Homo sapiens: one gene and its partners. The protein of the gene in region 1 purifies or fractionates together with the protein of each later gene. This does not show direct contact. Each region holds a gene or a part of one and is shown in the gene's direction. Other genes may lie near its edges.

What was found.
Region 2: the proteins of OGFOD1 (region 1) and STK26 fractionate together in Homo sapiens (co-fractionation; one large-scale study listed by BioGRID). This does not show direct contact.
Region 3: the proteins of OGFOD1 (region 1) and ISOC1 fractionate together in Homo sapiens (co-fractionation; one large-scale study listed by BioGRID). This does not show direct contact.
Region 4: the proteins of OGFOD1 (region 1) and PLPBP fractionate together in Homo sapiens (co-fractionation; one large-scale study listed by BioGRID). This does not show direct contact.
Region 5: the proteins of OGFOD1 (region 1) and ASNS fractionate together in Homo sapiens (co-fractionation; one large-scale study listed by BioGRID). This does not show direct contact.
Region 6: the proteins of OGFOD1 (region 1) and MCTS1 fractionate together in Homo sapiens (co-fractionation; one large-scale study listed by BioGRID). This does not show direct contact.
Region 7: the proteins of OGFOD1 (region 1) and PRCP fractionate together in Homo sapiens (co-fractionation; one large-scale study listed by BioGRID). This does not show direct contact.

Annotation. Positions count from the first base shown.
Region 1 is NC_000016.10:56,468,554-56,472,053, forward strand, and holds part of OGFOD1 (prolyl 3-hydroxylase OGFOD1), read left to right. Parts: intron 1-1,449; coding exon 1,450-1,529; intron 1,530-1,849; exon of another isoform or gene 1,850-1,933; coding exon 1,934-2,238; intron 2,239-3,500.
Region 2 is NC_000023.11:132,054,302-132,057,801, forward strand, and holds part of STK26 (serine/threonine-protein kinase 26), read left to right. Parts: intron 1-329; coding exon 330-560; intron 561-3,500. UniProt on the Homo sapiens protein: Serine/threonine-protein kinase that acts as a mediator of cell growth. Modulates apoptosis. In association with STK24 negatively regulates Golgi reorientation in polarized cell migration upon RHO activation.
Region 3 is NC_000005.10:129,108,249-129,111,748, forward strand, and holds part of ISOC1 (isochorismatase domain-containing protein 1), read left to right. Parts: intron 1-3,500.
Region 4 is NC_000008.11:37,769,145-37,772,644, forward strand, and holds part of PLPBP (pyridoxal phosphate homeostasis protein), read left to right. Parts: intron 1-3,500. UniProt on the Homo sapiens protein: Pyridoxal 5'-phosphate (PLP)-binding protein, which may be involved in intracellular homeostatic regulation of pyridoxal 5'-phosphate (PLP), the active form of vitamin B6.
Region 5 is NC_000007.14:97,862,409-97,865,908, reverse strand, and holds part of ASNS (asparagine synthetase [glutamine-hydrolyzing]), read left to right. Parts: intron 1-1,412; coding exon 1,413-1,650; intron 1,651-3,500.
Region 6 is NC_000023.11:120,617,601-120,621,100, forward strand, and holds part of MCTS1 (malignant T-cell-amplified sequence 1), read left to right. Parts: 3' UTR 1-3,500. UniProt on the Homo sapiens protein: Translation regulator forming a complex with DENR to promote translation reinitiation.
Region 7 is NC_000011.10:82,890,431-82,893,930, reverse strand, and holds part of PRCP (lysosomal Pro-X carboxypeptidase isoform 1 preproprotein), read left to right. Parts: intron 1-3,500. UniProt on the Homo sapiens protein: Cleaves C-terminal amino acids linked to proline in peptides such as angiotensin II, III and des-Arg9-bradykinin. This cleavage occurs at acidic pH, but enzymatic activity is retained with some substrates at neutral pH.

The DNA of each region.
Region 1 (3,500 bases):
TCTACTAGAAAAAATAACAAAAATTAGCCGGGCATGGTGGCATGCACCTGTAATCCCAGCTACTCAGGAGGCTGAGACAGGAGAATCACTTGAACCTGGGATGCAGAGGTTGCAGTGAGCTGAGATTGCGCCATTGCACTCCAGCCTGGGTGACAGAGCGAGACTCCGTCTCAAAAAAAAAAAAAAAAGAAATCAGAAAACTTATTCTCATGCCCTGGCTCTGTGGTTTTACTAACCTGGGCAGATCACTAAATCACTCTGGGTATTTATTTTGTCTTCAGTTAAACTGGGATTCATACCTGCCTTGTCTTTCTCATAGAGTTGTTGTGAGGGCCAATAAGATAACTTTTGCTGGCATGGCACTTTACAGTTGACTGTGGGTCCCATGGAGCCATGGTCCCAAGAGCTATTCCTCCATGAAAAAAGGTTGAGACTCTACATCCTGTCTCTCTCTAGCAATTTTATAGCTGACATTAGCATATTAAGGTTTTGAGAAGTATTATAGTAAATAAACTGAATACCCTATTCAATTCAGTTTACCTAAACCATGCTATGGGATCTTTCCTTTTTCATGCATTTATAACTGATAGGACTGCTTGGGAAACTGCATTAAACAAATAAATGGAAAGCCTCTTGTGGAGAATATTTCAATGGATTAACCAGCTTCCTGTGTCGTACCTAACTTTTTGAATTTAGAATGGTTATTAAATTAGGGGCCTAGAGAATCGGAATTGTTATACAGAGATTGTCACGGTAATGACCTTGATTGTAATGCAGTTTAATTTTTTATCCTCAAAACATCTTGTGAGTTGTATTATGGTCTGTATTATGATCCTCATTTTATAAATGCAGCAGTCTGGGAGGTTGAGCAGATTGACGTAAGGTATATAACTACTTAAGAGAATGAGCCACAATGGCACTCAGGTCTCTTGGCTAAAGCAAGCCAATGATGTATCCAGTCTTCACCCTGGCTTTACCACAGGAGGAGTAGGGGATCTTGTATGAAAGGAGTGAGAGTCGGCCAGGCGCAGTGGCTGATGTCTGTAATCTCAACCCTTTGGGAATCCAAGGTGGACAGATCACCTGAGGGTCGGGAGTTCGAGACCAGCCAACATGGAGAAACCCCATCTCTACTAAAAATACAAAATTAGCCAGGCGTGGTGGTGCATGGCTGTAATCCCAGCTACTTGGGAGGCTGAGGCAGGAGAATCGTTTGAACCCAGGAGGTGGAGGTTGTGGTGGGCCGAGATCACGCCATTGTACTCCAGCCTGGGCAACAAGAGTGAAACTCCATCTCAAAAAAAAAAAAAAAAAAAAAAAGGAATGAGAGTCAACTGCACCTTTTAGGAATCAGCCAGATTGATGTTTGGCAGAGCTGCTGTACCTGCCAAACCAGTGCGGGGTAATAGGGAGATCTGCTGAATGCTTCTTTATTTGCTCATTTTCTAGCCTGAGAAATTCACGAAAGTCTGTGAGGCCTTGGAGCATGGACATGTGGAATGGAGCAGCCGAGGTCCCCCTAACAAAAGGTAGAACCCGTCATCTGAGATATTTGCTTCTACATTCAGCACCTATAACATTTTTTTATAACTAGTAAAATGACAAAAAGCCTAAAGGAAAAATAGACTGAGGTGATGACAGGCAGTTCATGAAAGAAAATCAAATAACCAACAGGAAAAAATATACAATCATGCACCAAGGCTCACACCCAATAATAGGACACTTGCCCTAATGATGTTTTGTTCTCAGGGACATCCAGTAGCAGGATGTCCTAACAAAATCCTAACAAAATCTCACTATTGTAATAACTTGTGCCTTAGTAAGCTGTGCCAAGATTTAGGAAGAGAGGTACAAAGCTAACGATCAGCTTTTATTCTGTGAGTCATTTTACATCTGTGGCTTTGATGAACAACTTGACATTGCTGTTTTTCAGGTTTTATGAGAAAGCTGAGGAGAGTAAGCTTCCTGAGATATTGAAGGAGTGCATGAAGTTATTTCGCTCTGAGGCACTATTCTTGCTGCTCTCCAACTTCACAGGCCTGAAGCTTCATTTCTTGGCCCCTTCGGAAGAAGATGAGATGAATGATAAAAAAGAGGCAGAAACCACTGATATCACTGAAGAAGGGACTAGCCATAGTCCTCCTGAGCCAGAGAATAATCAGATGGCCATCAGCAACAACAGCCAACAGAGCAATGAGCAGACAGACCCAGAGCCAGAGGAAAATGAAACAAAGAAAGGTAAGCTGTTGTTAGGATTTGTCCTTACTTACCATTAACCATTCACCATTCAAACATGTATTCATTCAACAAACATTTATTGAGCATCTACTGTGCCCTAAGCCCTATTTCAGGAACTGAAGGACAAAACAGACAAGGTCTCTGGTCTTTGGGAGCTTACATTCTAGTAGAAGAAGACAGAGATTAAATGTATACATGAACAACAAGAAAACGTCAAGTAATGATAAGTGCTATGCAAAACATTGTAATAGGGTTATATGACAAGAAATGACTGAGTAGGCCAGGTGCGGTGGCTTACACCTATAATCCCAGCACTTTTGGAGGCGGAGGCAGTCTGATCACCTGAGGCCAGGAGTTCGAGACCAGCCTGACCAACATGGCAAAACCCCGTCTCTACTAAAAATACAAAAAAAAAAAAAAATTTGCCAGGCATGGTGGTGAACGCCTGTAATCCAAGCTACTCAGGAGGCTGAGGTGGAAGAATCACTTGAACCGGGGAGGAGGAGGTTGCAGTGAGTCGAGATTGCACCATTGCACTCCAGCCTGGGCAACAGAGCGAGACTACATCTCAAAGAAAAAAAAAAAAAAAGAAATGACTGAGTAGCCTCTTAGGCGAATAGATGATTTAGAAAAGTCTCTCTGAGGAGCGCCATTTAAGCTCAGATCTGAATATAACAGCCTAAGAATTTAAGAGGTAACACTCCTGTGAAAATATTGGCACCATTAAAAAGTAGCAACAAATTCAGCTTAGATGTTTCAGCACTTACTACTATGTCAGTGAGAACATCTGTCACCCAGTTTACCATTCCCTGCTTCCACTCAAATTTCTTGAGAACCCTGTGCAGTTAGGAGAGCAGAGACAAGGGGTGGATACTTGTGGAAACAAAATCAGTGGTTTGAGATGCTAACTGAAAGCAACATAACTCATTCTGTGGCCTTCCAAAACTGACTGAACAGTCACTTTGGCCACTGCAGATATTTAGTAAAACCAGACCCAGGTGGCTTTTTCTGTGCTATCTTAATACACAGGGTAGCCTTTCTTTGAAAGATTAGTTTTCCATGTTAATTGATACTGGCATTTATGCCTAGACCCTAAGAGGAACCAGAGTCAGTATCCATGGAGTCTGTCTCAAAGGGATTTTTTAAAAAACTTATCCACTTCTGTTTGTTTGTTTGTTTGTTTGTTTTGAGACACGGTCTTGCACTGTCACCCAGGCTGGAGTGCAGTGGTGCAATCACAGCTCACTGCAGCCTTGACCTCC
Region 2 (3,500 bases), on another chromosome or scaffold:
TGCATTAATGTGTAAACTGTGTATAATCAGCGGCTTTATTCCAAAAAGTGCCTGATGTTTTGGCATGCACTGGATATATTTGCTGTGTGAGAATGTTTGTGATAGCAGGATCAGCTAAGCTCAGTTAGTGTGTATGATTCACTAGAATATGGACTAGCTGCCTGTTTGGGATTACAGTTGTTCTAACAAAGCACATGTGGGGAGTCAGAGGAGTTTGTATGCTTTTACAAAAATGTGTTATTGTCTTATGTGATTTATTTTCCTTCATTAAAAAAATTTGATTCAAAACATTTGTGTTCTTTCTTTTTCTCGTTCCCCACTCCCTTCAGAATAACATAGCTGATCCAGAAGAACTGTTCACAAAATTAGAGCGCATTGGGAAAGGCTCATTTGGGGAAGTTTTCAAAGGAATTGATAACCGTACCCAGCAAGTCGTTGCTATTAAAATCATAGACCTTGAGGAAGCCGAAGATGAAATAGAAGACATTCAGCAAGAAATAACTGTCTTGAGTCAATGTGACAGCTCATATGTAACAAAATACTATGGGTCATATTTAAAGGTAATGTGTGTGCTGTATTATTTAAGTCATAAGGTATTTTCATTAGAAGTTTTTTAATTCTATTTTTTTGAAAGGCAATGTCTTAAATTAGGATTTGGCAGTCTATGGCTTCCAGGCAGAATCCAGCTCCATTTATAGTGCCAAATAAACCGTTGTTAGATTTAGCAGCTGTATTCTGAATGCATCCCAGTACTCAGCTGCACCCCTTTTCCACACCTGAACTTTTGGTTTGATGGAGGAGCAGAAATGCAGCTGGTCCTGGAGACATCTCCTTTGTCAGGAAAGAGCTATCCCCCTGGGTTTCCAGACACTATTCTCAATGGTCTTAACTGTCTCAACCTCAGAGCTGATGGAACATGTAAGTATGTCACTTATTTCATTGAGTTATGGTAGTTATTTACACATTTCTCTCCCCCACCAGGTTGTGAGCTCCTTCATAGCAGGGAGTTTAGCTTAACCAGTCCTGGTACTTACATTCCTTAGCACAGGGTATGGTACATCTTAAGCATGTGGTAAATATTTGTTAAAATGGAATTAAGTGGAATAACATCTGCCTCCCCCTCCAAATAAAAGTTGGATTTTTACTGGTTCCAGGATCATGGGATTAGCAGACACCTGAAGTTCCAGCAGATGGAGGTGTTACTACATAGCAGAAAACTGGTTGGTAAAACCCAGTGGTCCTTGGGTTCCAGAGTTAGAAGTCAGGATTCGTGTCTGTTGAAATGTGAATAATAAATAGTTGAAGAAAAGCCCCCATGAACTCTAGCTTAGTTTGGAGTTTGAATCATTTTAAAATTAAAATTGTTTATCCTTGTATTGCAGTTTTTCAAATGAAGGCTGTGCTAGATCTTTGCCATTCAGGGTTTAAAAGGAGGGAAGTGTTTGTTGTTACTGGTTGATCTATAGGCCAAAAAGAGCGTATCTATAACTAATTAAGCTGTTGGCCTGCGTAAAAATTAATGCTATCATTTTATCCTCTGCTGACCAAATAAAACTTCGGATATCCATCTATACCTTTACGAAATAACCTGTCTTCAAGTTCACAGATTCTTTCTTCTGTTTGATCAGTTCTGCTATTGACACTTTATTGTATTGTTTCATTTCATTCATTGTATTTTTCAGCTTTGAAATTTCTGAGTTTTTAAAATGATTTAATCTACTTGTTAAATTTATCATTTTGTTCATTTATTGTTTTCCTGATTTCACTTGTTTCTTTGTATTTTCTCGAAGTTTGCTGAGCTTCCTTGACACAATTATTTTAAATTATTTGTCAGGCAGTTTATAAATCTCCATTTATTTGGAGTCAGCTACTGGGAAACTACTGTGTTCTTTTGGTGGTGAGATGTCTCCTTGGTTTTTCATGTTTATTATTGCCTTATGTTGATGTCTCTGCAGTTGATAGAGCAATCGCCTCTTCCAGACATTACAGGTTTCAGTGTGAAAAGACCTTCTTCCTCTGTAGGACAGTGTGAGAGCAATGGCTGGGTGGGTTGCAGTGGTTCTGGCTCCAATGAGGGCATAGGAGTATAGTTCCTGTGCAGCTTTGTCACTTGAGATTAGTGTTGACAAAGATTGCAGGGATCCTCAGTGGTCAATACCTTGGTTGTCTACAACAGTGGTGAGGGCTGTTTGAGGTCTTTGGTGGCAAGAGCTGCTAGGGTCCCCCCAGTCTCTTTTTCTTCCACCAGAGAAATCATAGCCGAGTAGATCCCTTTTGGCATTGGGTCTGCTTGTGGGCCCACTTGAGGTGGCACTAGTGTCTAATGAGTGATGCCCATGGAGTGGCCACAGAACTAAGGCTTCAAGCATAGGCATATCTGGAGGGACATGCTCTGGGGCCCAAGCCAATAGTAATACCAACGTCCTAGGTACAAATACCCCCTACTGCTGCACAGAGCTACAGTGGCTCTGAGGGTGGCGTAGGGCCTAGCTATTTGTAACATCTGAGCTGATGTCTGGAGCATAGGCACGCTCAGAGGGACCTTGTCTCCAGAGCCTGGGATGTGAGCTAGCTCACTATGGCAGTGATTAGCTCAAGTGTCTGAGCTGTGGGTGGGTCCAGTGCAACCACTCAGCTGGTCTGGAGTCCAGAACACAGGCTAGCTTTCAGTGGTGACTGTGTGGATGTCTGGAGCATAGGCACACTCAGAGAAACCTTGGCTCCGGGGCCCTGGGGTGTGAGCTAGCTCACTGTGGCAGTGGCTCCAATGTCTGAGGTATGGTTGAGCTCAGTGAAGACGCAGAATCTGGGTCTGGAGTGTGGGCACTAGTGGAGTGGCCATGACTCAGAGGTCTGGAGCTGCATCAGTTTTCAGAGTGGTGGCTTCTTTCTCCATGTGGCTCAACAATGTCTTCTTCTTGAGATGAGAGAGTTTTGTAGTCATGTATTCCTCTTGGGGTTCCCTGGCAGAAATGGCTGTTGACTACCTCAGTAGCAAGAGATGCCAGTGTCCTCTGCAGAGCAGGCCACTGGGGACCATGATGGCTTCTACTGTGTAGTGATACCAATAGCCTCCACCTTTCATCTTTGTTCCTAGACATTTCCTGGCCTCTCAGGTATGCTGATCTCCTCAGTGATCCTTCCTGTGGAGTTATTCTTTCTTTTTTGCTCCACTGTGTTGCTGCAGATTGTTAAATAGGCCCTTGAATCCTTCCAGAGTTACTTGGGTTTGTGGATAGCTGTCTATATTTGGGGGCTTTTTATGTATATGTGGAGGGAGGGGATGATTAAAACTGGTATCTCCTCTGCCGTCTTGGTGACTTTGTCATCGCTTTCCATCTATCTGTATCTATATTGGTTAATACTGATATAGAAATTTATCACAAATTTCACTGCCTGTTTACAAAACCCGACTTATTCTAATATTGGATGTATGTGGTATGAATGCATAGTAGAATGAATCATTAAGCAGCCAAACAGCCACTATATATTACACACTG
Region 3 (3,500 bases), on another chromosome or scaffold:
ATCAGAGGAAAGAAGGGATGAGTACAGGGCCACAGGGTGGTGGGAAGCAGGCAGGTAGCTGGCCACAGCAGGTGTTTTAGGGTCCTTATTGGCTCTCCCTTCTCTGTTATTGCTGAAGCAGAATCCTATACTGAGATTACAAATAGAAATTATTTATTTTGTTTAGCTATTTTCAAGTCCATTAGGCTATTAGATTATCTGGTAGTTAGGTACTAAGTATTGCTGCTTCTTCCAATCTCAACAAAGACCTTTAATCCATTTCTTTTTTTTTTTTTTGAGAGATGGAGTCTTGCTTTGTCGCCCAGGCTGGAAGTGCAGTGGCACAATCTTGGCTCATCTGCAACCTCCACTTCCTGGGTTCAAGCAGTTCTCCCTGTCTCAGCCTCCCGAGTAGCTGGGATTGTAGGTGCCTGCCACTGCACCCGGCTAATTTTTGTATTTTTAGTAGAGATGGGGTTTTGCCATGTTGGCCAGGCTGGTCTCGAACTCCTGACCTCAGGTGATTTACTTGCCTCGGCCTCCCAAGGTGCTGGGATTACAGGTGTGAACCACTGTGCCCGGTCAGACCTTTAATCTATTCTTATAGTCATGAGTTAATCAATTCCTACTTTTCAGGTTTTCCTGGTAACCTGAGTTTAAATACTTCATTGTCAGGTCCTCACCACCTCAGCCAGCAGCTCTTTCAGCCACTGTGGATAAACCTTTATTGTAATGCTGAGGTCCAGAACTTTGGAAATAAAAAATGAAAAACACAAAACAAACTTCCTTGCTTGTAAAAAAGGACTTTTTTCAAGGACTTTTCTCCTACATTCATATTTTCTTAGATATGTCTTTGTTATGGCAACTTAATGACAAAATTTTGATTGGCAATTCTGTCTTTGCACAAGACTCAAGATTAAAAACAATTCCCATCTGAACCATTCTTTTTAGAGGCAATCTGTAATCTCTCGGATTAGGAATCCACACAATGTGGGGATAATGTGGGTTTGAAGGCAGGTTCTGGTGTTTTGTAAATTTGTGACTTTGAGCAAGTTGTGTAATCTCTATGCCTCAGATTTCTCATTGGTGAAATGGAAATGATAATAGCAACAAGATCATAGGATTTTTGTGAGAATGGAATGAGATAATATATTGATAGCAGTTAGGACAGTGCATGACATAGTAAATACTCAGATGTTAGCTGCTGCTTTTTTTGTTGTTACTGATTGTTGTCTTCACGTGGTTAGTCACCAGAAATGTGTAAGTATATAACCTCTAAGACCCAGAAGGGACTAGTTCTTGGAAGTTCTGAGAAGGGAGGGAAAGAATCTGTTGTCTGGGGTGGATTTGGAAGGGCCTGGAGCACCAACATTGCCTGGGGTTAAAGTGTTGAGGTTGAAAGGGAAAACCGATCATAGATAAGTCAGGTGGTGATTGATAGGGAACACCTGCCATATTGCAGATTTTTTTCCTTTTAGTCTTGATTTGATACGGAGGCGATATACCTTGTTCCTAAATTTGAGGAAGGGGGCAATGTTAAGTGTTCTGGTTTGTTTCCATAAGTGTGAAAGTTAAAATACCATTGTGGTCCTCTCCCCTTCCTCTCTATTCCTGTAGAACATAACTACTGAAGATAATTCCCAAGACTAGCTATATTGCCTGTTAAGATTATTTTAAGATTCATAGTTTGCATTATTGAAACTTCACTGTACCAGGGTCTGTGGCATGTGCTTTATTCAAGAAATGTTTTCTGGGTATTTGTCATCTGAAAGACATTACTCCTTTCAATTAACAATTGTAGAGTGCATGAAGAATAAGAGAATAAAATCCTCTCTTGACCTTGATGTCCTTGTACTTCCGGGGAGTTTTAGTGTTGCTTGGAAATCTAATGGGTTTAGTCTTTTTCCCCCCTCTCTGAGGCTTTCATGACTTAGTGCACATGCATTTTTTAGGTTTGTGGGTCAGAGCAATCCTTCTTTTCCTTTGGCCTAGTTGGATTAGTTTTGCAAGTGTAAGGGGAGAACTTCAGAAGTCTAATGCACATGTACCTGTGTGCATTAAATGGCTGGAGTTTTAACTGCCCCTTTTTAAGCCAGGAGAGAAAGTGGACTTGGGACCAGCATTGTCAGGATGGTGGGCAGGGACTTGCTAGGTATGTCTGGAAAGCTCCTGCTGTTCTTTCTCTGCTCAGGCACGTTCTTTGGTTGGGAAAGGGCAGGCATTGTGGGAATGGCTAAGAGCCAGATTGAAAACCATTGCATTTGCTAAGCTACACCTTTCCCTAACACAGGTTCCTGGCTAGATGATTTTAAAACCCAGTCAGTGTTGGCCACATTTCAATCTTGAAGCAAAGTGATAGTGTATGGGTGTCACTTTCCTAAAATGTATTTCTGTGATGTACACTTCCCACTCTGCCCCTGCTATGGCCACCTGAGTCTCAGCATCACTGAGGCTTGTTAGGCTCAGGTCAGTAGAGCACTAGGGAGTGCTGGGCATTGTAGACAGGCTTCTTGTAGCGTCACCAGATTCCTTCCTTAGACCTGGGAACAGATTTATCTTTCCTGTCTCACTAAGGAACTGGGGAGATTATCGAGAACTAACCTTTATTGGCACATTGGAGTATACAGTGTAAAGCACTCTCACAGACATTGAAAGCCTGTGATTTAGTCCTTGATTCAGACTGAATCATTGCAAGTCCATTGATTCAACAGTGAGCAGTAAGGAAGGCAGGGCTGAGCAGGGCAGGCAGCTGGTGATGGGGAGAGCTGGACATGAATGACTTGACATTCAGTGCTGTTTTCACACAACTGGACTGCAGCTTATCATATTTATTATCTGCCTTTCTGTCTGAAGCAAGCACACGATCTTTTCATATTTTTGAATGGTTTTGATATGATTAATCAGCTGACTATAAAGCAAGGAGGAGGAAATTAGGGCTTCCAGAAGTCTTAAAAAAATACTCAGAGATAACTCACCCCTGGTGTGTGTCTGAGCTTATGGCCTTACTCCAGGCCCCCAACCCCCCCATAAATAGCTGCTGTTTTTGTTTTGTTTTATTTTGTTTTTTTTAAAAAATTGCTGCAAAGTTCTGGTTAGCTGCTCTGCACCCTTTTCTGTACTGGTCATTAAGGTCCAAGCTTGCTTTCTGACAAGTAGGTTATGGCTTATACTCCCTTATACTTCATTACGGATAAAAATAAAGAGTCTGCCAGTGGAAAGGTTCAGTCTGCTGATGTACAGCCATTGAAGGAAGACTGACTTACACTCTGCAAGGATATTTTGGCTATGCAAGGGCTTCCTGGGTTTTTGCCTCTGACTTACCTAGGAATTGTTTCCAACCACTTCCTCTTTCATGCTTTTTACATATATGCTTTTTGTGATAACAGTTTGTGTCTTTTTTTTCCCTGGGATTTCTGATAACACATAAATCCAGAGAATGAATCTGTGCTATAGAATTCTTCTATTTTCCTCCTTTCCTCTCTCTACCCTTTACCCCCGACTTTCTGTTCTTTGCTCTCTTC
Region 4 (3,500 bases), on another chromosome or scaffold:
GGTAACATGGCAAAACCCTGTCTCCACTAAAAATACAAAAAATTAGCTGGGCGTAGTGGTGTGTGTCTGTGGTCCCAGCTACCTGGGAGGCTGAGGTAGGACGATCACCTGAGTCCAAAAGGTTAAGCCTGCAGTGAGCTGTGATTGTGCCACTGCACTCCAGCCTGGATGACAGAGGAGACCCTATCTAATAATAATAATAATATTAATAATAATAAATTTTAAAAGAACAACTAGCAGATTTGATCACACAAAAATTAAAGCTTTCTGCATGTCAAAGCAAAAGGGAGGCACAGAGTGGAAGAAAAATAATATTTTTGAAGAGGGAAGAGATTCATATCCAGAATACATAAAGAGCTACAAATCTTTTTGTTTATAGGGAAAAAAAATAGGCAAAAACTGGGGCAATTTATAAGGGGTAAAAATACAAAAGGCCAGTAATCAAATGAAAAATATTCATCCTCAGAGAAATACAAAATCACTAATCAGATTTGTAAAAAATCAAAAAGACTGCTAAGATCCAGTGTTTTGAGGGAGTGAGTAAATGAGTACTCCTTCGTCTTACCAGGAGATTCTAAAACCGTAGAGTCTTGGAAAAACATAAAGATTCCACCAAAAAACTATTATAACTGAAAAACAACTTCAGTAACATTGCAGGATACAAAATAAATATACAAAAATCAGTAGCATTTCTATATGCCAACAGTGAATGATCTGGAAAAGAAATCAGGAAAGTAATCCCATTTACAATAGCTACAAATGAAATACCTAAGAATAAACTTCACCAAAGAAGTGAAAGATTTCTGCAATGAAAACTGTAAAACACTGATGCAAGAATTTGAAGAGGACATGAAAAAATGGAAAGATATTCCATGCTCATGAATTGGAAAAATCAGTATTGTCAAAATGTCCTTATTGCCCAAAGCAATCTACAGATCCAGTGCAGTCCCTATCAGAATACTAGTGACATTCTTCACAGAAATAGAAAAACACAGTCCTGAAATTTATATGGAACCACAAAAGACCCATAATAGCCAAAGCCATCCTGAGCAAAAAACAAAGCTGGAGGAATCACATTACCTGACTTCAAATTATACTGTAGAGCTATAGTAACCAAAACTAGCATAAAAACAGACACATAGACCAATGGAACAGAATAGAGAACTCAGAAATAAATTTGTACATCTACAGAGAATTTATTTTTAACAGAGGTGCCAAGAACATACATTGGGAAAAGGACAATCTCTTCAATAAGTGCTGCTGGGAAAACTAGATATCCATATGCAGAAGAATAAAACTAGACTCCTATCTCTCACCATGTACAAAAATCAAATCAAAATAGATTAAAGACTTAAATCTAAATCCAAGACCTGAAACTACTAAAAGAAAACATTGGGGAAACTCTCCAAGACATTAGTCTGGACAAATTTTGTTTGTTTGTTTGTTTGTTTTGAGACAGGGTCTCACTCTGCACCCAGACTGGAATGCAGTGGCATGATCTCGGCTCACTGCAACCTCCATCTCCTGGGTTCAAGCGATTCTCCTGCCTCAGCCTCCCAAGTAGCTGGGATTACAGGCACGCCCCACCATGCTGGCTAATTTTTGTATTTTTGGTAAAGACGGGGTTTCACCATGTTGGCCAGGCTGGTCTCCAATTCCTGACCTCAGGTGATCCGCCCACCTCAGCCTCCCAAGGTGCTGGGATCGCAGGTGTGAGCCACTGCACCTAGCCATGTTAGAAATATGTAAAGGTGATGGGAGGAGGGAGCGGGGAAGGAGCCAGCAGGCATAGAAGGGGCAGGAAAACCTAACAGAACTGTTGTTTTAGTGCCATTTTCCCTTCTGGATGATCCGTTATACTCATTCAACCTCACAGCTCAATTCATTTCCATAAAGGCTTCTTGAGGCCAGATGCAGTGACTCACACCAGTAATCCCAACACTTTGGGAGGCCAAGGTGGGAGGATCACTTGAAGCCAAATACATATATGTATATTTCTTTCTTTTTTAGTCTTTCTAGTCTTGCTCTGTCACCCAGGCTGGAGTGCAGTGGCGTGATCCCGGCTCACTGCAACCTCTGCCTCCCAGATTGAAGGAATTCTCCTACCTCAGCCTCCCGAGTAGCTGGGATTACAGGCATGTGCCACCAGGCCTGGCTAATTTTTTTTGTATTTTTAATAGAGACAGGGTTTCACCATGTTGGCCAAATGGATCTCAAACTCCTGGCCTCAAGTGATTCGACCACCTCGGCCTCCCCAAGTGCTGGGATTACAGGCGTGAGCCACAATGCCTAGCCATCTCTGGCTAATTTTTTTATTTTTTGGTAGAGACAGGGTTTCACTGTGTTGGACAGGCTGGTCTTGAACTCCTGGCCTCAAGTGATCTGCCCTCCTCAGCCTCCCAAAGTGTGGGGATTACAGGTGTGAGCCACTGCACCTGACCTTGACAAAGATTGCTTGAGTAAATACTCCAAAAGCACAGGCAACCAAAGCAAAAATGGACAAATGGGATCACATCAAGTTAAAAAGCTCTTGCAGGCTGGGCACAGTGGCTCACGCCTGTAATCCCAGCACTTTGGGAGGCCAAGGCCAGCAGATCACGAGGTAAGGAGTTCAAGAACAGCCTGGCCAACATGGCAAAACCCCATCTCTACCAACAATACAAAAATTAGTGAGGTGTAGTGGTGGGTGCCTGTAATCTCAGCTACTTGGGAGGCTGAGGCAGAAGAATAGCTTGAACCCAGGAGGCAGAGGTTGCAGTGAGCCAAGATTGTGCCACTGCACTCTAGCCTGGGCGACAGAGCGAGACTCTGTCTCCAAAAGAAAACAAGCTCTTGCAGAGCAAAGGAAACAACAAAGTGAAGAGACAACTCAGAATGGGAGAAAATATTTGCAAACTGCCCATCTGAAATACTTGTACATAGCACCAAGTTCTATATCCAAGCTTTGTTTTTGTAATAAAAAATAAGAAACAATCTAATATCCATTAACGAGGAATAGTTATGTAAACTGTGATAATCTGTCCTGTGGATTGCTGCAGTTTTTTAGTAGAGATGGGGTTTCACCATGTTGGCCAGGCTGGTGTCAAACTCCTGACCTCAGGTGATCCACCCACCTGGTATTACACGTGTGAGCCACCACACCTGGCCAGTGTTAGGGTCATGGTGATGTCCTTGTTGGATAAGAATACCCTCATCCCAGAAAGTTGAAGAATTGTGGTGATATGCTAGGGAAGCATCTTGGCTTCCACTGGTCATCCTTTCTTCATTGTCATCCTGACCTGTTTCTCTCAGTTTGAACTGAGACATAGATCAAGCCTTTTACTAGGAATCTGTCCGTTACCAGCTTCTTGAAGCTTATGGATGTATATGCTGCCTGATCATGTATGTCAGCTTTTCCCTTATTTACCTTTGCTGATTAGCCAGGGATGGTCTGACATTTGAATTTGTATCTAGTAAAACTGTCACATTTGTCTTCTCAGAGGAACTGAGATTTAACTGTG
Region 5 (3,500 bases), on another chromosome or scaffold:
TCTCAGCCCGCTTCAGCTGCAGTATAACTTTTCTACACATGCCCGGATTTCCCCATGCAAGCACGCCCACAAAGGGTAATAGAATGGCACATGTTCAAGCTGGATACGCCATTGGCAGGATCCCCACAGATGGGACTTATGTGCATTATCCATTGTGTATTTTTGCTTATTTTCTGCTCTGTGGTGTTAAGATACTGAAAATGTCAAAAAGACCTGTAGATATTTCTATGAGCAGCAGTGATAAGGAAAAGTAGAAACACTTATAACACAGAAAGTCAAGCTGTAGGAGAAACTGGACTGTAGTATAAAGGTATAGATGACATGGTGAAAATGTGTGATAGAGATATTGAAGGACTAGAGCTACCTGCATTCATAACAGAACAAGAGGTCATGTCAGTTTATAAAATCAAAGAGAGCCTTCCAAGACAAAAGCCATTGTTAATGAAGCAGATGACTCTGGAGAAACATTTAAAAGTCATCTGGCCGAATGCCTCTTCAATCTCAGAGGACCCGCTTCCTAGTTGCTCAGCTGCTTCTGATGTTTCTTCTCACCTGAAAAAGGAAAAAAAAATACAGTGTATAGTAACCTTTTAATCAAAACGCAGCATTGTAGGTGGAGTCTGAAAGCCTGCCATTGTTTGTACAGCTGTTTAACAGCTGATGCAGGTATTCTGGTGATTCTACTATGCTACTTATTACTTTCTTACTGTATTAATGGTATGTCATATTTTATAAGCATATGAAAATGATTGCTCATCAGCAGCATAATAAATTCAGAGTCAGGAATGATGGTCAATGATGTCAAACAGCCACAGATTTTCCACATGGTAGCTGAGATAGTGACCCCTTTGCTTTCTGATGGTTCCATGTATGCAAACTTTGTTTCATGCACAAAATTATTTGAAATATTATATAAAATTACCTTTAGGTTTTGTGTATAAGATATATGAAACATAAATGAAGTTCATGTTTAGACTTGGGTCTCATGCCCAAGATATCTCACATATATGCAAATATTCCAAAGTCCAAAACACAAAACACTTCTGGTTCCAAACATTTCAGATAAGGGATACTCAATCTGTATATATATAAATATATGTATGTATTACATATATGGTATGTATATAATATACATTTCCATCCCTCCACAGGTTACTGTTCTGGCACATTCCCATTATGTTCTGTTTATCAGACTGCAACTAAAATTTTCATGGGTTCGGCTTTATGTTGAACAGAATTTGCAGAATATGAGTTGAAGCGAACCATAGTTTAATAATGCTGTGATTCTCCTAAATCACCAAAGTGCATGAAAGGATTATAGAGCTCAGAAATACTGAAGCATCTTTGCAATAAAAAATTATTAGTGAATGTACAAGGAGTCTAACATTTTGGTTTTGCTTTCGCTTCCTAAGATGCAACAGCATTTTGAATTTGAATACCAGACCAAAGTGGATGGTGAGATAATCCTTCATCTTTATGACAAAGGAGGAATTGAGCAAACAATTTGTATGTTGGATGGTGTGTTTGCATTTGTTTTACTGGATACTGCCAATAAGAAAGTGTTCCTGGGTAGAGATACATATGGAGTCAGACCTTTGTTTAAAGCAATGACAGAAGATGGATTTTTGGCTGTATGTTCAGAAGCTAAAGGTAATAATAAATTTTTCTATAGATTTTCATTATTGTCTTGGTTGTACGTTTTCTTTTAAATTATATTTGAAAATCTCTTAGAGAGCAATCCAGAATTTTACAAGTGACTAAGTTATGAGTCTTTACCTTTTTTTAAAAAAACAGAGGAGTTGTACTCTCCTTTTCAGCACTTAAATTCTGTAATCCTTGAAGGATGATTCTTTAGTGCAGTCGTTTATTTTTTGCTGTGCTAATATGCTCTACATCTAGCTTGATCTTAAGTGCAGTTTTAAGTTTTCCTGTGTCATACTATAATCGTAGGGTTGACTCTGCAATTATTGCATTGTGGTACTTTGCGCAGTTATAGCACAGCAAGTGTTAGGATTTCTAAAACAGCTTTATTGATAATTCACATACCATGTAATTCACCCACTTGAAGTATACAGTTCAGTGGTTTTTAGTATATTCACAGATGTTGGTAAACAACACTCCAATCAGTTTTAGGATTGTTTTTCCACCTCAAAAAAAACCAAATCAAATCCTATGCCCTTTACCTTAGTTTTTGCTGGCAGGATCAACTAGGTTTTTGTTTGTTTGTTTGTTTGAAGAGATGGGGTCTTGCTCAGTCGCCCAGCCCAGGCTGGAGTGCGGTGGTTTGATAGCTCAGTGCAGCCTTGAACTCGTGGGCTCAAGCGATTCTCCCACCTCAGCCTCCCTAGTAGCTAGGAGTATAGGCATGCACCACAACACCCTGCCTCCTGTGCCCTTTAGCTTTGAATTCCATCTCTCCATATCCATCAGCTGCACCCCTGCAGTTGTAGCCCCGGCAATCACCAGTCTTTCTGCCTCTGGATTCCCTATTCTGTATGTTTCATATGAACGGGATTATATATCATACCGGCTTTTGTGACTGGATTCTTTCACTTGGTATAGTGCTTTCAAGATTTGTCTATGCCGTAGCATGTATCAGTACTTACTTCTTATGGCCAAATGATATTCCATTACATGGATACACTGCATTTTGTTTATTCGCTTGTCAGTTGATGGACATTTAGGACATTATTTACCCCTTTTGGCTATTATGAATAATGCTGCTATAAACATTGGTGTACAAGTTTTTGTGTGGACATTTCCCTTGGGTGTATATCTAGGAGTAGAATTGCTGGGACACATGATAACTATGTTCAGTTGAAGAACTGCCAGACTAATTTTTGAAATGGCTGCATCATTTTTTATTCACTCCAGCAGTGTATTAAAATTTCTGTTTCTCCACATCTTCACAAACAGTGTGTGACTTTAATTCTAGCCATTCTAGTGTATGTGAAGTGGTATCTCATTGTGATTTTGATTTGTATTTTCCTGTTGACAGTGATGTCCAGCATCTTATCTTATGCTTATTGGCCATTTGTATATCTTCTTTGGAGAAATATTTGTTCAGATCCTTTGCCATTTTTTTTTCCTGTTAGGGATCATTTTATTTTAAAAACATAATAGACTTTATTTTTTTTTTTGAGCAGTTTTAGAAAAAATTGAGAGGAAAGTGCAGAGAGTTCACATATGCTCCCCCTACAGTGCCCCTGCCCAGTTTTCCCCACTCTTAACATCTTGCATTACTGTGCTACATTTATTAGATTTGATGAACTGATACTTATATATTAACTGAAGTTCATAGTTTACATAAGGGTTCACTCTTTGTGTTTTATAGATTTTTGGATTTGACAAATGTTTAATGCCATGTACCCACCATTACAGTATTATGTAGAACAGTTTCATTGCCCTAAAAATCTCCTGTGCTCCACTTATTCTTTCCTCCCGTCCTCTTCCTCCTAACCCCCCAGTCATTACTGATCTTTTTGCTTTCTCTCTCACTT
Region 6 (3,500 bases), on another chromosome or scaffold:
GCCAATATGTGAATATAGGAGACTTCAAAAGCATAATCAATTACTCCCTTAAAGTTCATTGTAAGTGTTCTCAGAACTCTACCACCTAGAATTTAAAGACGGGAAGATTTACTTTATAATTTTAATTTCTTATCACAAGACTCGATTGTCAATAACTGTTAACGTCCATTTAATAATCTATGGTGAAATAGGTAATTTCTTCTTATTTTCACAAGCGTGTGAGTAAAAGACTGGGTTTTAAGCAATAAATCATTTGTTCTAACTAAGCACATGCTTGGAAAAAGTGCTATTTTTCCAAACGTATGCCTTGAAAACAAATACAATTCAATTGCCTTTTTGGTTCATGGGAAGCCATACTGCGGTGGCTTCCAAGGTTGGCCAACCTGTTTTTATTCTTACCACCTCTTTCAAAAAGGGATGTTGTCTTTGTCCCCAAATTCTGGTGTTGTCCTATGCTGATGCATAATGAAGCCCTGAGGCTTGGAAACTTGCAAACCAATAAGATGATTTAATGATGAAACGGCATGTCAGTTTGACACTGTCTATTAATAGTCCTTGAGTGAGCTTAAATTTGAGACACTTTTAAAAGCGGCATGTAGTTCCAGTTTTGCTTCCCTTATCAGTGGAGCTTGAGATGTCTGTTCCTGCCGACTGATGTTTTAACAAATTTTTAGTTTCTCATGATGTGAAAGATTTTGTATGCACGTCTTAGTCTGGATACTGTTTTCATTAGTTCTAATGCTGCTGCATGCAAATTTTGTTTAAAACCAAAATTGACTCTTCACATCTGGACTAGATTGGACATGGTGAGGAGGCTGGAAGGAAAGTCCTTTTTGCTCTGTAGGCTCTGGACAGCTTTCTTAGAGTTGACTTATCCAGGATTAAGAAAAAGTTTTCTTTTGCGTGACTAAATTCTTTCCACAGTTTGCTTGTGTAAGCATTTTAGATTTAAGCAAGTTCAACTTGAAATATATTTGAATATGAAGTAGAAACAGCTTCATTTAATGGGATAATAGCAATCTCTAACCCATCAAATTAATATCTACTAAATAGCTTCCAAAAAGCACTGACTGGAAAATATTTTTCACTATCATGGCTTTATTCAGTTTCAAAAACAGTAGGGGCTAAAATGTTTGGACATTTATCCTGCATTTATTTTGTGTTTCACAAGGTTAAAATTTTGTATTTTGTAAAGTGTCTGAAAAGGAGTCCACAAAGTATTTCTGCTTTCTTGCTCCTGAATGCAAAGGTCTGAGAGAAGGCACATCCTCATTAGCTTCTGGGTGTTGTCAAACCCAATCCTCTCTCAAGTACCAAATGCCCAGATACATTTATTGGGATGCAGGAATCTCACTTAAGTAGCGGTTTTTGCTGATATAAAGACAAACATCTTGATTAAAGTGTAGGGAGATAGAAACTATACCAATTTGGGCAATTTTGGCTCTAATGTCTAATTTGTTGTGAAAGGGGAAGATGTTCTAAGCTAATGTTCTTAAAAGTAACTTATGAATTTCTTAAAAATAGTTTTTAAAAAGCTGTTTCAGGAAAAGCTGTTTTATTGCATGGCACAGATTAAATGTACAGATGTTATCTTAAAACAATGAAAGAGTTCCCCTAATTTGAATATTCAATACCAGCTGTTATTCACATCAATATTTTAACATTTTACCATCAAGATATTTAATACAAAGGATTGATACATATTTAACTGTTTAGAATTCTAGTTAAACTTGTCCAGATGAGTAAGAGGGAAGGAGAAATAACATTCTCCAAGTACCTACCATGTGCACAAGCTCTACTTATATATCTTGCTTAATCTTAGCAATGATTCCATGAGGTAGATTTTAACTCTCATTTTACAAACGAGGAGACTAAGGCTCAGAGAGGTCATACAACTTCAGGAAAGTTGTATGACCTCTCTGAGGTAATAAATGGCAGAACTGGAATTTGAACCTAAGTCTCCTTGTCTGCAAATCCTGTGTTTTGCAGAAAACTCTCCTCTTGTATTTCATAAAATGTTAAATCTTGGCCCAAATTCAAATCACCATCTTTATGGGTTATTGGAGAGAGGTATAAGTTGGCAAGACTCTGTTCCACGATGGGAAAAAATGGGTAGGATTTGAATGAGTAAGAGTGGGATACTTGCACAGTATCATATTTGTGTGGCTGGAGTAATGTTTTTCTGTTTCCCTCTTAGCAAAGTGGAGTGGGAGAATCTTGAAATTGAACTCAGTCCTGAGGTCTGATTTTCCTATTATTAGTCACTTTCAAGCCAGGTGATTTGTGACCATTTAAATGTTATGCTATTTCAAAGTCTTCTACATCTTTAGAAAAGGACATGAGGGAGGGTTAGTTAAGTGGGGCAATGAGAATGTAGAGTGTAATGTGCAAAAGCAGGACTAGCAGTTGCTTTGAAGATATCTGGGGAAGGCCGGGCACGGTGGTTCACGCCTGTAATCCCAGTACTTTGGGAGGCCAAGGTGGGCGGATCACGAGGTCAGGAGATCGAGACCATCCTGGCTAACGTGAAACCCCGTCTATACTAAAAATACAAAAAATTAACCGGACGCAGTGGTGGGCGCCTGTAGTCCCAGCTACTCGGGAGGCTGAGGCAGGAGAGTGGCATGAACCCGGGAGGCGGAGCTTGCAGTGAGCTGAGATCGCACCACTGCATTCCAGCCTGGACAACAGAGCGAAACTCCGTCTCAAAAACCAACCAAACAAAAAACAAAAATTAGCTGGGCATGGTGGCGCGTGCCTGTAATCCCAGCACTTTGGGAGCCAAGGTGGGTGGATCATGAGGTCAGAAGATTGAGACCACCCTGGCCAACATGGTGAAATCCTGTCTCTACTAAAAATACAAAAAAAAAAAAAAAAAAAAAAATTAGCCGGGCGTGGTGGCGCGTGCCTGTAATCCCAGCTACACAGGAGGCTGAGGCAGGAGATTTGCTTGAACCTGGGAGGCGGAGGTTGCAGTGAGCCGAGATTGTGCCACTGCACTCCAGCCTGGGCGACAGAGCAAGACTCCGTCTAAAAAAAAAAAAAAGATATTAAAATTAATGACAGGAAGAGTTTGGGTTCAGTTATAATTTAAGGGAAAAAACATTGAGGGGCCTAATCTACATTTTGCTCCGGATCCAATGATTTAATTTTTGGGAAGAAAAATCCAGTGATTAAAGTCATGCAAGGAGATGGCCTGGGGCTTGCTAAAAGTCAGGTTGCAGTTTCCATTGCATTCAAGAAAATCAGAAAAATAAATACAACTTTTAGAAGAAACTAAGTTTTCTCCCATTCATGTTTAGCTATTGGGGGGTCTCATACTTCTGGACTTGCTTAGACCTATGCTATCTAATATGGTAGCCTCTGCCCATCCATATGTGGCCACTGAGAACTTGAAATGTGACTAGTTTGAATTAAGATGTGCTGTAACTAAAATACACCCTGGATTTCAAAGACTTAATAAATAATGTAAATTATCTATTCTTTCCTGTTGATTATAT
Region 7 (3,500 bases), on another chromosome or scaffold:
AAAGCTTCAAATACCGTAAATATTATCCTAAGTACTTAATAGACATTCACTTAATTAATCCCTATTACTGTTCTATGAGGTAGATGCTATTATTCCATTTTGTAGGCAAGAGAACTATCCTTTTTGTTTGTTTATTTTTAGACAGGATCTTGCTCTGTCACTCAGGCTGGAGTGAAGCCATGTGATCATAGCTCACTAGAGCCTTGAACCTATGGGCTCAAGTGATCCTCCCACCTCAGCATCCCGGGTAGCTGGGACTACAGGTGTACACCACAATGCCTGGCTAATTTTTTAATCTTTTTGTAGAGATGGGATCTCGTTATGTTGCCCAGGCTGGTCTTGAACTCTTGTCCTCAAGCAATTCTCTTACCTTGGTCTCCCAAAGTGCTAGGATTACAGGCAGGAGCCATCAAACTCGGCGAGCAAGAGAACTATCATATAGAGAGGTTAAATTATTATACTGAGCTATACTACTTATCTGTACCATTTTGTTTTTCTGAAATTAAACTCTGATTAATTTCTAGTGCTGAAATGAATGCCATTAGCTTGCTTGTATTATCCAGGATAAGTTAGGTTTTGCTGCTATAGTAAAATTTATGAATTTCGGTCACTTAACCTAACAAAATGTATGACCCTTACTGTCATAAACTTCCAATTGAATGAGCAGGGGGCTGTGCTCCTGCTTTCACTCAGAGACTAAGTGGCTGATCGGGGTTTCCTTTTTAGCATATGCTTTCATGAACACTTAGCAGTGGAAAAAGAACATGGAAGATCTCATATGAATGCTCCAAAATGGAAATTACTTATGTCACTTCTTCTCACAATTCCTTGGCTAGAACTGGTTAAATGACTGTACCCAATCACAGGGTAGGGAGACAAAAAGTATTGGCTTTGTAGTGCCTAGACAGACAGCACTAATGACTACCATACTCAATCAGTCACTTACCCACCCACCTACCTACCTACTCAGTGCTGATCTGGTGTCTTTTGTATGTCAGGCACTGGGCTAGGTCCTGGCCAGGCATAGATGACTATACCCTGAAGGAGTTCAAATTGTACTTGTTGACCATTCCAACTGCATATACTCAAACTTATATCGAAACAACATGGAAAACACTGAAAATTTTGTAATGTCTTGGCATTCATCTGACTCCAACACACAGATTGCTTCAAGAAATAGCCCTGAAGTGAGGCGAATTTTTAAAATGTTTTCTTGCTTAACTTGTCATCATTATAATAGTTTACTGACCTGTTGTGTGTGTACATTAAAGCACATGATAAAAAGGAACTTATTTATTGATACCATCATTCAGTAATTAAAAATAATTGTTTTGCCTAGCTTTATTATAATAAAAGAAACAAAATTGATATATAGATTTTTGTAATCTTAAGTGTGCTTTGGTAAGTGTTGAGTAATTGTTAATTAAAAAGAATAATTCTGTACTGAAAATTTTTATTATCTATTTAACAATATGTATGTAATGGGATAATTTATAAAAATATTTTTTTCTTTCTGGTTCACAATTTTAAAAACCCTAGGTATTGTTTATGAGAAGTGAATGAATGAACATTTATTGATTATCTACTCTGAGCTCAATATTATGCTAAACTCTTTTACATCTCTTTTTAATTATTATTAATATAATCGCTTTTTGAAATAGATGGTTTAATTGAAACTCATAGAGGTTAAGTGTCTTAAGCTATTAAAGGACAATATTGTGAGTCATGTTTTTTATCTGTTTCTTTCAAGATCTATGATCTTTCATTGACATCATGATGTCTCTGTAATCTAAGCAGTAGTAACAAAACTGATGTCTCTGTGTCCACTTATTAGTTCATATTCAGCTTTACAACAATCCTGTGAGGTACATATTCTCACTAGTAGATTCACTTCTAAAAGTGAAGTGAAGTTCACAAATATCAAAGGAAGAAACATCCAAAATATCCCATTTGTAAATATCCTGGTTTTTCAGTCCCAAATTGTAAATAACTTGTGGTATGTCTATAAAATGGAATATTGTTAGCCCAAAAAATTATGGTCTTAAAGTATTCTGACAATGTGATAAAATGTTTATGCGTTAATAATAAATGAAAAAAGCAAAATGGAAAATGAATGTTCAATGTCTGTCTAAATTCATTTACCTAATTTTTTATTAGGTGCCTACTATATTCGAGGCACTGGGGAAAGAGCATTCTAGGCATGGGGAAAAACATTCTAGGCACAGGGAATGTCTAGGCAGGGAAGGTCAAGTGCAAAAACCCTGAGGTAGGTGTGTGCTCAGTGGGAGGAACTGTAGGGAGGATGGTATGTCTGGAGGGACATGCCCCAGGGAGAGAGTACTAGAGGAGGACAGAAAGGAGGTTCAGGGAGCCAGATAATGCGGGGACATCTGGGCCATTGTAAGGAATTTGGCCGTAAATCAGAATGAGATGAGAAGCCTTTGGAGCTTTAGGGGTAGAAGAATGACTCTGATTAATAAATCTTAAGAAACACTTTGGCTATTGTGTTGAGAATAGACTATGTAGGGGAAAGGGGGTAAACAGAAAGACCAGGTTGTTGCAAAATTTCAGATTAGAGACGATGGTGGCTTGGATTAGTGTGGTAGTGGTGGAGGCTGAGAAGTGCTCAGATTCTGGATATTTTTGAAGGTGTAGCTGAGAGGTATAGTTGATGAATTAGATGTAGGTTGTGAGATAAAGAATTGAAGATGACTCCAAGGTTTTTGGCCTGAGCAGTTAGAAGGTAGGAGTTGTCATTTACCAAGAAGGGGAAAGCTGCAGAAGGAGTAGGTTTGGGGAAGGAAGGAGAAGAGGAACTTGGTTTCAGAAATGGTATTGTGTCAAGAATTTAGAAGAAAGGTGGGGCAAGTAATACAAATTTGAAGCTGTTAGTATACAGATGGTATGTAAAACCATGAGATTGGAAGAGAGCAACAAAGGAGTTAGTGAAGATGATCTTTTCTTTTAAAGATGATCTTCTCAACACTGCATATTTAGAAGTCAGGGAAATGGGGAACCAGTTAAGGAGACTGAGAAGGAACAGTTGGAGGAGGAAAACCAGGAGGGTGTGATACCCTGATTACTTAATGAAAAAAGCATTTCCGTAAGAAGGTAACCAGTAGTGCCTAAATAAATGACTGGGAATTGGCCACTTGATTTAGCAATGTGGAGGTTATGGTGACCTTGACAGCAATTTCCTCAGAGGGTGAGTGGAGGCGAAAGCCTCATTGGAGTGGATGCAAGAGAGAATGGGAGAAGCTGAATTGAGACCACGAGTGTGGTAATCTTTTGGGGAATTTTGCTGTGAAGGGGAGCAGAAATATGGTGTGGTAGATGGAGGGGGAGAGGGTTCCCATTTTTAAGATGGGAGAAATAATCGAATGTATGCTAAGGGAAATGAGCCGAGAGAGTGAGAAAGTGACGGAACAAGAAAGAAATAGAATTGGTAGTGGGATATCTTAGGCAAGAGGAAATGGGATCTAATGAAAAAACAAGAGCAT